2 separate regions of the Homo sapiens genome follow, and region 2 is linked to region 1. The links come from fine-mapping of genetic effects on gene expression. A gene starts in region 1. The other region holds a variant in brackets. All regions are shown on one strand. Distances are between the middles of the regions.

Region 1 (5,381 bases):
CACAAGCATTCCTATACACCAGTAACAGACAGCCAAATTATGAGTGAACTCCCATTCACAACTGCTTCAAAGAGAATAATACACCTAGAAATCCAACTTACAAGGGATGTGAAAGACCTCTTCAAGGAGAACTATAAACCACTGCTCAATGAAATAGAAGGATACAAACAAATGGAAGAACATTCCATGCTCATGGGTAGGAAGAATCAGTATCATGAAAATGGCCATACCGCCCAGGGTAATTTACAGATTCAATGCCATCCCCATCAAGCTACCAATGACTTTCTTCACTAAATTGGAAAAAACCTTAAAGTTCATATGGAACCAAAGAAGAGCCCACATTGCCAAATCAATCCTAAGGCAAAAAACAAAGCTGTAGGCATCACACTACCTGACTTGAAACTATACTACAAGGCTACAGTAACCAAAACAGCATGGTACTGGTACCAAAACAGATATAGATAAATGGAACAGAACAGAGCCCTCAGTTGTAGATATGTGGCTTTATTTCTATCTGATCTTGGACAAACCTGAGAAAAACAATGGGGAAAGGATTCCCCATTTAATAAATGGTGCTGGGAAAACTGGCTAGCCATATGTAGAAAGCTGAAACTGGATCCCTTCCTTACACCTCATACAAAAATTCAAGATGGATTAAAGACTTCAACTTTAGACCTAAAACCATAAAAACCCTAGAAGAAAACCTAGGCATTACCATTCAGGACATAGACATGGGCAAGGACTTCATGTCTTAAACACCAAAAGCAATGGCAACCAAACCAAAATTGACAAATGGGATCTAATTAAAGTAAAGAGCTTCTGCACAGCAAAACAAACTACCATCAGAGTGAACAGGCAACCTACAGAATGGGAGAAAATTTTTGCCAGCTACCCATCTGACAAAGGGCTAATATCCAGAATCTACAGAGAACTCAAAATTTACAAGAAAAAAAAGTCCCCATCAAAAAGTGGGCAAAGGATATGAACAGACACTTCTCAGGAGACATTTATGCAGCCAACAGACATGAAAAAATGCTCATCACTGGCCATCAAATGCAAATCAAAACCACAATGAGATACCATCTCACCAGTTAGAATGGCAATCATTAAAAAGTCAGGAAACAACAGGTGCTGGGGAGGATATGGAGAAATAGGAACACTTACACTGTTGGTGGGACTGTAAAGTAGTTCAACCATTGTGGAAGTCAGTGTGGCGATTCCTCAGGGATCTAGAACTAAAGATACCATTTGACCCAGCTATCCCAATTACTGGGTATATACCCAAAGAACTATAAAACATGCTGCCATAAAGACACATGCACAGATATTTATCGCAGCACTATTCACAATAGCAAAGACTTGGAACTAACCCAAACGTCCAACAATGATAGACTGGATTAAGAAAACGTGGCACATATACACCATGGAATACTATGCAGCCATAAAAAATGATGAGTTCATGTCCTTTGTAGGGATGTGGATGAAGCTGGAAACAATCATTCTCAGCAAACTATGGCAAGGACAAAAAACCAAACACAGCATATTCTCACTTATAGGTGGGAGTTGAACAATGAGAACACATGGACACAGGAAGGGGAACATCACACACTGGGGCCTGTTGTGGGGTGGAGGGAGGGGGAGGCATAACATTAGGAGATACACCTAATGTTAAGCAAGTTAATGGGTACAGCACAGCAACATGGCACATGTGTATTTATGTAACAAACCTGCATGTTATGCACATGTACCGTAAAACTTAAAATTATTGCCATTTAATGGATGGGGGAACTGAGGCCCAGATAGATTAAAAGGTTGAAGCTAATCCGTATACAAGTTTGGGTTAAAGTTCTGGCCTGTGGCTCACATGGCTTTTTTATATTTTGTTTGTATTTTTGAGACAGGTTCTTGCTCTGTTACACAGGCTGCAGTGCAACGGCACAATCATAGTACACTCCAGCCCCTACCTCCTGGGCTCAAGCCATCCTCCCTCAGCCTCCCAAGTAGTTGGGATTACAGGCACATATTGCCACACCCCATTAATTTTTGTGTTTTTAGTGGAGACAGGGTTTTGCCTTGTTTCCCAGGATGGTATCAAACTCCTGAGCTGAAGCCATCCTCTTGCCTCGGCCTCCCAAAGTGCAGGTGTTGTGTGAGCTACTGTGCCCAGCTATGCGTGCCTTGTTTATCCACAGAAGTGGTCAGAAAGCTTCCTGGGAGCAGGGCTGTGGGTTAAGGCTCTGACCAACCCACGCACATTCCCCATCTCCAAACACAATGAGCCCGTAGCAATGAACCCTTGTTAGCCGATTTCATCAACTGAATGCACTTTCCTCAGATCTGATTAGACAAACAGGCTAGCCTGAATCCCAGCTGGGGTGGGAAAGAGACACAGGGAAACAAAACACAACCGGCTATAAGCCAGGGGATGGCCAAGTATTTCTGTAAAGGGCCAAATATTTTTAGGTGCAGATCATGAGATTCCCATTGCCAACTATTCAACTGATGCGTGGACAAGGCTGTGTTCCAACTCACCTTTATTTACTAAACAGGTGGGCCAAAGTTTGCTGACCTCTGCACACTATGATCAATCTATTGAAAGCCAGTCATGGGGATGGGGGTACCTGTTAGATCTGAAAAAATGAGATCTGTCTCTGTTCTTTATAAAGTGGGGGAGGAAGGGCGGTATGGTAAGAAAATGAACAAATTCTGTGCTGAAGACTGAATAATGGTATTTACCTTTGATTTCTTGTTTACTGCATGTCAGGTGCCGTACATTATTCGCTGTAAGCCTCAAAAACTCAGGAAGATTTAGCCCCATTCTCCAGATAAATGAAGTGGCTCAGAGATGTTAAGTTGCTGGAGATCACATAGGCAGGATTCTAACACGAAAGCTTATTCTCATTTCGCTATGTTCCACTGGGCCTGATCCAGTCTCAGCCTCAATTCTCCTGTTTGGGTGGTGCTATGTTATCCAGCAAGATGACCCTGCAAAGTCAATGCTGTGTATTCAAGGCACAATAGACAGTCTTCTAGAGGCAGTAGCCTCCACCTAGCACAATATGGTGACAAGGTAGCCCAAGCTGTCTGACCACTTCAGCCCAAATAATTTCACACAAGCATGAAAATTAGAGAAGATGTCATAATGGTGTCAGAGGGATTTGAACCAGAGCAACTCCATCTTGGGTAGGAGCTGGATAAAATGAGGCTGAAACTATTGGGCTGCATTCCCAGACGCTTAAGACACTTAGTCACAGGATGAGATAGCTGTATCTTGTGCCGACCTGTTTGCTGATAAAACAGGTTGCAGTAAAGAAGCCGGCCAAAACCCACCAAAACCAAGATGGTGCTTAAAGTGGCCTCTGACCGTCCTCACTGCTACACTCCCACCACTGCCATGACAGCTTACAAATGCCATGGCAACATCTGGAAGTTACCCTATATGGTCTAAAGAGGGGAGGTATGAATAATCCACCCCTTGTTTAGCATGTCAAGAAATAGCCATAAAAAAAGGCAACCAGCAGCCCTCAGGGCTGCTCTGTCTATTGAGTAGCCATTCTTTATTCCTTGATTTTCTTAATCACCTTGCTTTCACTTTACAGACTTGTGCTTTCTTTCTTTCTTGCAGGAGATCCAAGAACCATCTCTCTCGGGACTGCATCAGGAACCCTTTCATGTAACAATAATGGTAGAAGCACCTGGGATTTGGGAAAATCTTGGAGAGTACTTTGAATTTCTAAAAACCCATGAAAAGGGAGATTTTAAAAATTCACCAAGTGTTACCTAGATCTTTAGGGGTCCAGAGATGCCAACTAGTTTTGGGGCTCCACACCACAATGCAATAAAAAAAATGAGGCTGCTTTGGTCGAAAAGGGAGGTAACAATGTTACAGGCAAGGGGTCCTGATCCAGACCCCCAAGAGAGGCTTCTTGGATCTCGTGCACAAAAGAATTCAGGGGCAAGTCCACAGTGCAAAGCAAAAGTATGTTTATTAAGGAAGTAGCCTAAGTACTGTTAGCCATAGAGTAGGGCATTCCCAAAAGAAAGGGGAATGCATCCACTCTAGGTACAATGCTTGTTTATAGAGAATAAAAAAGATCATGAGGGGCCGGGCATGGTGATTCACGCCTGTAATCCCAGCACTTTGTGAGGCTGAGGTGGGGGGGATCACTTGAGGTCATGCGTTTGAGACTAGCCTACACAACATGGTCAAACAGTCTGTACTAAAAAATACAAAAATTAGCCAGGGGTGGTGGCACGTGCCTGTGCGCCCAGCTACTTGGGAGGCTAAGGCAGGAGAATTGCTTGAACCCGGGAGGTAGAGGTTGCAATGAGCTGAGACTGCACCATTGTACTCCAATCTGGACAACAGAGCAAGACTGCATCAAAAAACAAAACATCTTGATGAGAGACATGCTCTGCTACAAGGATTTGTAATAATTCTTAATTACTACATTTTACAAGAATCAGTATTATCTTCGAAGCGAAATTACGAATCCTTCTGTTCAAGGTATCAGGATAACATGACACTCCCACATCTGGGTCTCTTTAGTAAGCATTGAAGGATGTAATACCTCTTCCAAGATTTTAGCCTGTCAATTGTTAAGTACAATGAGTTCTGACATCCCATCCAAAGAGCCAATCTATCAGTACACGTTCGGCTCCCGTTTTGTCCATTTTAAAGTTTAACTTCCTCGTTCTCATCTCCTTGCCCCTAGTTTCAGTAAACAAGCTTTTCCACCAGTTCTAATCAGTAGGTCACATGTGTTGCCCTGGTCACCTACTCCATCCTGAGTCAACGCTGGTTACCTGCTCTGACTTCAATCATCGTGAGTCACCGGTTCTGTAGCAGTCATTCCTGCTTCTCAGACTTGTACCCACTGCTCTTTAAAATAGCCATTCGGAATTAGCTTACACTGTGGTCCAACCCTAGCCAATAGGGGAATGACAGCAGTAGAGGCTACCTGTCTCAGAAATAAGAACCCCTTCCTCTCCCTTGGTTCAGCTGTGCTCTCGCCATTGCTCCATCTGTAAGTCACCCTTCTATAGAAGTAAAATTGCCTTGAGGAAATTTTCAAGTGCTATTTCTTTTGTGGCATCAATAATTTTTAAGTGTTATTAATCTGTTCCCTTAACCAGAAACATCTAGAGGCCAAGAATAGCTACCAGTCCAGAATGCCGCCTCCCAAGTTCCAGCCTCATTTTCCTAGCCCTCATTCAGGACGGAGTTGCTCTGGTTCGAATGCCTCTGATAACAGACCCAAGAAGTTTCTTACTCATTCCCCCGTCTCCCCAAAGCCCACCCCCGCTGCTTAAAAAAAAAAAAAATTCACTGGGCTACTACATGGTGCTTGAGGTTGAAGTCTTTGAGCCTTGAGATTGTC
Region 2 (5,381 bases), 41 kb after region 1:
TAAAACCCCCTCCCCAGCCTCTAGCTCTGGCTTATGGGAGTCAGTTGCAGAGGTAGAATGGACAAGAAATGGGACTTGAGATCAACATTGTGGAATGTTGTAGCAATCAGGCCTCTTTTGGTTTGCAAACAACAGAAAACTGACTGAAGCAAAGAAAGAAAGTTATTGGCAGCCAGGCACTGACTAGCTTCAGGTATGGCTAGACCCAGGGGTTCATTCTGGTCCCTTGCTTCTTTCTTCTTATTCTCTCTTCTCCCTGTTTCTCTTCCCTAGTTTCTTCTATGATGGCTACATTCCTTGGTAAGCTCTCTTCTAGGTGGGATCCCCCACCAGTTCCAAACATGCACCACCCCTTCCAGCGAACTCCAGTGGAAAGAGATCTTCTGCTAATACATCCAACGAGAAGCCTGGGATACACATCCTTGGTTTGACTTGGGTTCTGTGGCCCTCTGTGACACCCCTGGCATGTGGCCAGAACTGTGGCACCTGATACCTCACAGGTACTTCTGCTTCCACCATGGCAAAGCCCAGGATAACGCCAGTGCCATCTAAACAACAGAAACTAATGTCGGGGATAGTAGGACCTCCAAAGTACAGTGAGAAGGCATAATGGGCCAGGCATGGTGGCTCATATCTGTAATCCCAGCACTTTGGGAGGCAAGCAGATCACTTGATGTCAGGAGTTCAAAACCAGCCTGACCAACATGATGAAACCCCCTCTCTACTAAAAATACAAAACTAGCTGGGCGTGGTAGTAATCCCAGCTACCCGGAAGGCTGAGGCAGGAGAATCACTTCAACCTGGCAGGCAGGGGTTGCAGTGAGCCAAAGTTGCACCACTGCACTCCAGCCTGGGTGACAGAGCAAGACTCTGTCTCAAAAAAAAAAAAAAAAAAAAAAAAAGGCATAATGGATGCTGCACAGGTGTCCATCATAGGTGGGTGGTTCCCATGGACAGTAAGTCACCCTGGATGGAGGTTACATTTCGGTGGTCAGAAAGACTGTTAATCAAATCCAAGAACCTTCTATAAAAGAGAGATGAGTCACCAGGAAATCACTGGGTGATTTCCATGAGAAGGAGCCATCAGATATATCCCTGGCACAGAGTAGGTACTCGATAATTTGCTGAATTAATGTAGAAATGAGTGTAAAGTCTGGGCACAGTGGGTCACACCTGAAATCCCAGCACTTTGGAAGGCTGAGGCAGGAGGATAGCTTGAGCCCAAGAGTTCAAGACCAGCCTGGGCAACATAGCTCCCTACCCCATCTCTACATTTTTTTAAAAAAATTAGCCAGGTGTGGTGGTGCACGCCCGTAATCACAACTACTTAGGAGACTGAGGCAGGAGGATGGATCACTTGAGCCCGGAAGTCAAGGCTGTGGTGAGCTATGATCAGAGCACAGCACTCCAGCCTGGGCCACAGAGCAAGACCCTGTCTCTAAAAAGAAAAAAGGAAATGAGTGAAAGGCAGTGGAGGGCACACTGGGGAACTGGAAGACCCCTAGCTGGTTTATGGGCATCGTGGAAAGTGGCACATGGAGGAGGGAACAGCTTCTACTCAGAGGGAGTTGCAGACAAAGTAAAACGAGGAGTAAGAGGGGCTCAGGACTCAGAGGAGAGGCTGAGAATGCAGGGGGATTTGCTTCACAGAAACAAGAGCTCTGGGGGCTTCAGTGGAAAATTGAGAGAAGGAGGGGCAGGAAGGGGGAAAGGAAGCGTGCTGTGTGTGTGCACAAGAACACAAGTCTGGGCCCAGCGTGGCAGTGCACACCTGTAATCCCAGCACTCTGGGAGGCAGAGGTGGGTGAATCACTTGAGGCCAGGAGTTCGAGACCAGCCTGACCAACACATGAAACCCCATCTCTACTGAAAATACAAAAAAAAAAAAAAAGAAAAAAGAAAAATTAGCTGGGTGTGGTGGCACACACCTGTAGTTCCAGCTACTCGGGAGGCTGAAGCACGAGAATCACTTGAGCTGGGAGGCAGAGGTTGCAGTGAGCTGAGACGGCAGCACTGCACTGCACTCCAGCCTGGGCGACAGAGTGAGGCTCTGCCTTAAAAAAAAAAAAAGAGAGAGAGAAAAAAAACCCAAAAACCAGAAGACTGGATTGACAGATTGAGCTAGAGTCTGCATGGAGAGGAAGGATGATATGGGTGGGGGACATGGTGGAATGAGCTGTCCTCAGGGTGCCATATAAAGTCCTGGAAGCAAACTGGAGTCTGGCGATTGGTCCTGTGTTTGGATGGAAAAGCAGAGGTCACTGGGGTTGAGAAGTGTCTGTGTGAGAGAGAAAGAGAACCTGGAGGTCACCTCCTTTCTCCCCCAGTGGCGCATGGCTTTTATCTTACTGATTTTCTGGAACTGAATGATGTAAACCAAGAAGAAAGTGTTGTTGTCAAATTGACATTCTCAGTCTGTAATTAACTACTCCTTTCTGTTTTTAAACAAAGCATACTGTAAAATTTATTAGTATCAATGAATATTTGTATCCACGCTAAATCTTTTAGGTATTGAACTGTTTCCTTTATGTTAGGTCTGATTTCATCACAATAAATGGTACCCAGGGGCATGATGATTGCATTGGTTGTTTAATCTGAATTTTGGATGCCTGGCAAAATCCATGCCAATACAATTAGCTTTAGAGC[A/G]CCTGACGGATCCGACTGGAGCCAAGATCAGCAAGGTGTCCACGACAAAGAGGAGCAGACATGAGTTCCCAATTTCTGGTTCCCCAGGATCTGATGTGATCACCTGTGGAAAAAGCCCATCATGTACTGAAAGGGTGTTAAAATTATCAGCCCTGCTGGGGAGATGTTGCTGAACTGTCTACACAACATCAAAACGCTTGTTTTCTTAAATGATAATTAGAGCAGCTCCATGGGAGAGCTAGTTCATAAAGACGCTCCCCGTGAAACTGCTCCATCCACACAAACAAGCCAGACGCGGTGCTGTGACCAGAAGGGCAGAGGCCACCGCTAATTAGACATGACATCAGCATTTATACTCTGCTGACCAATTACGTCGGAAGAAGTAAATAAAGCTAATGAAACTTTCCTTTCATCCAAGCTAGGAGCTGCAGACTCTCCGTAGGTGAGTAACGTTGGCCCAGAAACGCCTCTGCTGGAGATCTTTCGGGTAATGTGTGACTTTATTCCTAGAATTCCTTGGAGAGAAAAAAAAATACTTAACTAAATTGAATAATGAAATAAATAAACTTGGTTCCATTTGTCAGTGGAGACATAATTTGAGGATGAAAATAATTTACTTACTTTTTTTTTTTTTTGAGGAGACAGAGTCTCACTCTGTTGCCTAGGCTGGAGTGCAACGGCAATTCTCCTGCTTCAGCCCCCCGAGTAGCTGGGATTATAGGCGCACACCACCATGCCTGGCTGATTTTTGTATTTTTAGTGGCGATGAGGTTTCACCATGTTGGCCAGGCTGGTCTCGAACTCCAGACCTCAAGTGATCTGCCCACCTTGACCTCCCAAAGTGCTGGGATTATAGGCGTGAGCCACTGCTCCCGGCCAAAAATAATTTACATTCCAGTGTCTGATTCCAAGAGGAGCAGACCTGCTTCTTCATCTAAAAGAAGAAAGCCTGGGGTCCTATTTGTGAACATGCTTTATCCTTTTTGGGTAAGGGAGTACATATGTCATTCCAACTCCCCCTGCCACAGAAGGCTAGAGGCTTGGTACAGTGGAGGGGTAATTGGTGCTGGGACCACAATGCTTGGGTTTGAATCCCAACTCTGACACTCACAAGCTACGTGACCTTGAGCAAGTTCCTCAGTGTCTGAGGTCTCAGTTTTCTCATCTGAAAAATGGGAATAATCAAAATACTTACCTTGGTGGGGTTGTTTTTAGCGCTCAGTGAGTTCATACATGGGAAGTAATCACAATAGTCTCAGGCCACGTAGCTGACGTCTCAGCTGCCTGCTCCTTTATAGACAAGAGGGAAAGTTTGTTTTGTTCCTTTGAAGCTGCATTATAAAAAAATTTGACTGCTGCTGTGCTATCAAATGTAGTTTTTTTTTGTTTGTTTGTTTGTTTTTGAGACTAAGCTTCACTCACTCTGTTGCCTGGGCTGAAGTGCAGTGGTGCAATCTCGGCTCACTGCAACCTCCACCTCCTGGGATCAGTGATTCTCCTGCCTCAGCCTCCCGAGTTTCTGGGACTACAGGCATGTGCCACCACACTCGACTAATTTTTGTATTTTTAGTAGAGATGGGGTTCACCATGTTGGCTAGTTGGTCTCGAACTCCTGACCTCAGGTGATATCCCCCCACCTCTGCCTCCCAAAGTGCTGAAATTACAGGCATAAGTCACTGCACCCAGCCCAAATCTAGCTTTAAGAACCCAGTCTGGGAGGCTAAGCACATTTTAAGGGGGACCATGGGCCCCTCATGGATGCACGGCTGGGCTCTGTGCTGGGGGATGAGGGTGGAGGAACAAACACGTGATGTTTGAAGATGATCAATGTCATGATTATCTATTATGCAAATACTCTGCACAGACACAATGGACAGTGCAGAAGCATTTGGTTATATTCTGCCAAGATTTGCTCATGTATCAGTGCTAAGGTGTCAAGAAGGCTCATGTTAACCTTAAGGGAAAGGTACTATATTGTCCCCATTTTATAGATAAAGAAACTGAGTCTCAGAAACAGGACATGACCTACCCAAGGCCGCAGAATCATTGAGTGGCAGAGCTAGCAATGGAACCCAGGTGGCCCAACTCCATCCCTTTAACACTTCTCCCTTCCTTTTCTTTCTTTCCTTCCTTTTTCTTTCTTTTTCATTCTTTCTTTCTTTTTCTTTCTTTCTTTCTTTTTCTTTCTCTTTTTTCTTTTTTCCTTTTCTCTTTCCTTCTTTTTCTTCTCTTTTTCTTTTTCCTTTCCTTCCTTCCTTTCTTTCTTCTTTCTTTCCTTTCTTTCTTTTTCTTCTCTTTCCCTCCCTCCCTCCCTTCCTTCTCTCTCTCTCTCTCTCCTTTCTTTTTTTTTCCCAGAATCTCTCTCTGTTGCCCAGGCTGGAGTGCAATGGCACGATCTGGGCTCACTACAACCTCTGCCTCGTGGGTTCAAGCGATTCTCCTGCCTCAGCCTCCCGAGAAGCTGGGACTACAGGCGTGCGCCACCACGCCTGGCTAATTTTTTAATTTTTAGTAGAGATGGGGCTTCACCTCGTTGGCCAGTCTGGTCTCGAACTCCTGACCTCAAGTGATCCACCTGCCTTGGCCTCCCAAAGTGCTGGGATTACAGGTGTGAGCCACCGTGCCTGGCCCATTTTTAACTGTATCTGTCTTTCTAGCATTTTCTGCACGTTAAGGAGGCCACCGATGGCGAAGCTGGGTTTTGATTTCAGAAACAGTAAAATGTGAAAAAAATG

Alleles and levels. Positions count from the first base shown, and alleles are read on the strand shown. Sizes are in standard deviations (SD) of each study's normalised expression.
With allele G in place of A in region 2, the expression in neutrophils of the gene that starts at base 3,141 in region 1 is lower (large effect, 0.80 SD a copy in BLUEPRINT).

Evidence for each region.
Region 2: its variant is fine-mapped to the expression of SNX29-AS3 in neutrophils (BLUEPRINT, PIP 0.95).

Annotation. Positions count from the first base shown.
Region 1 is chr16:12,608,002-12,613,382 of GRCh38, forward strand. It overlaps SNX29-AS3 (SNX29 antisense RNA 3), which reads right to left and starts at 3,141. Exons shown (of 4, transcript XR_007064988.1): 1 at 2,737-3,141. RefSeq lists a cis regulatory region at 4,605-4,984 and an enhancer at 5,145-5,381.
Region 2 is chr16:12,649,348-12,654,728 of GRCh38, forward strand. LOC105371088 (a long non-coding RNA gene) reads right to left here and starts at 4,026. Exons shown (of 2, transcript XR_933085.3): 1 at 3,842-4,026; 2 at 2,437-3,161. The variant A/G (reference allele first, on the strand shown) is at 2,647.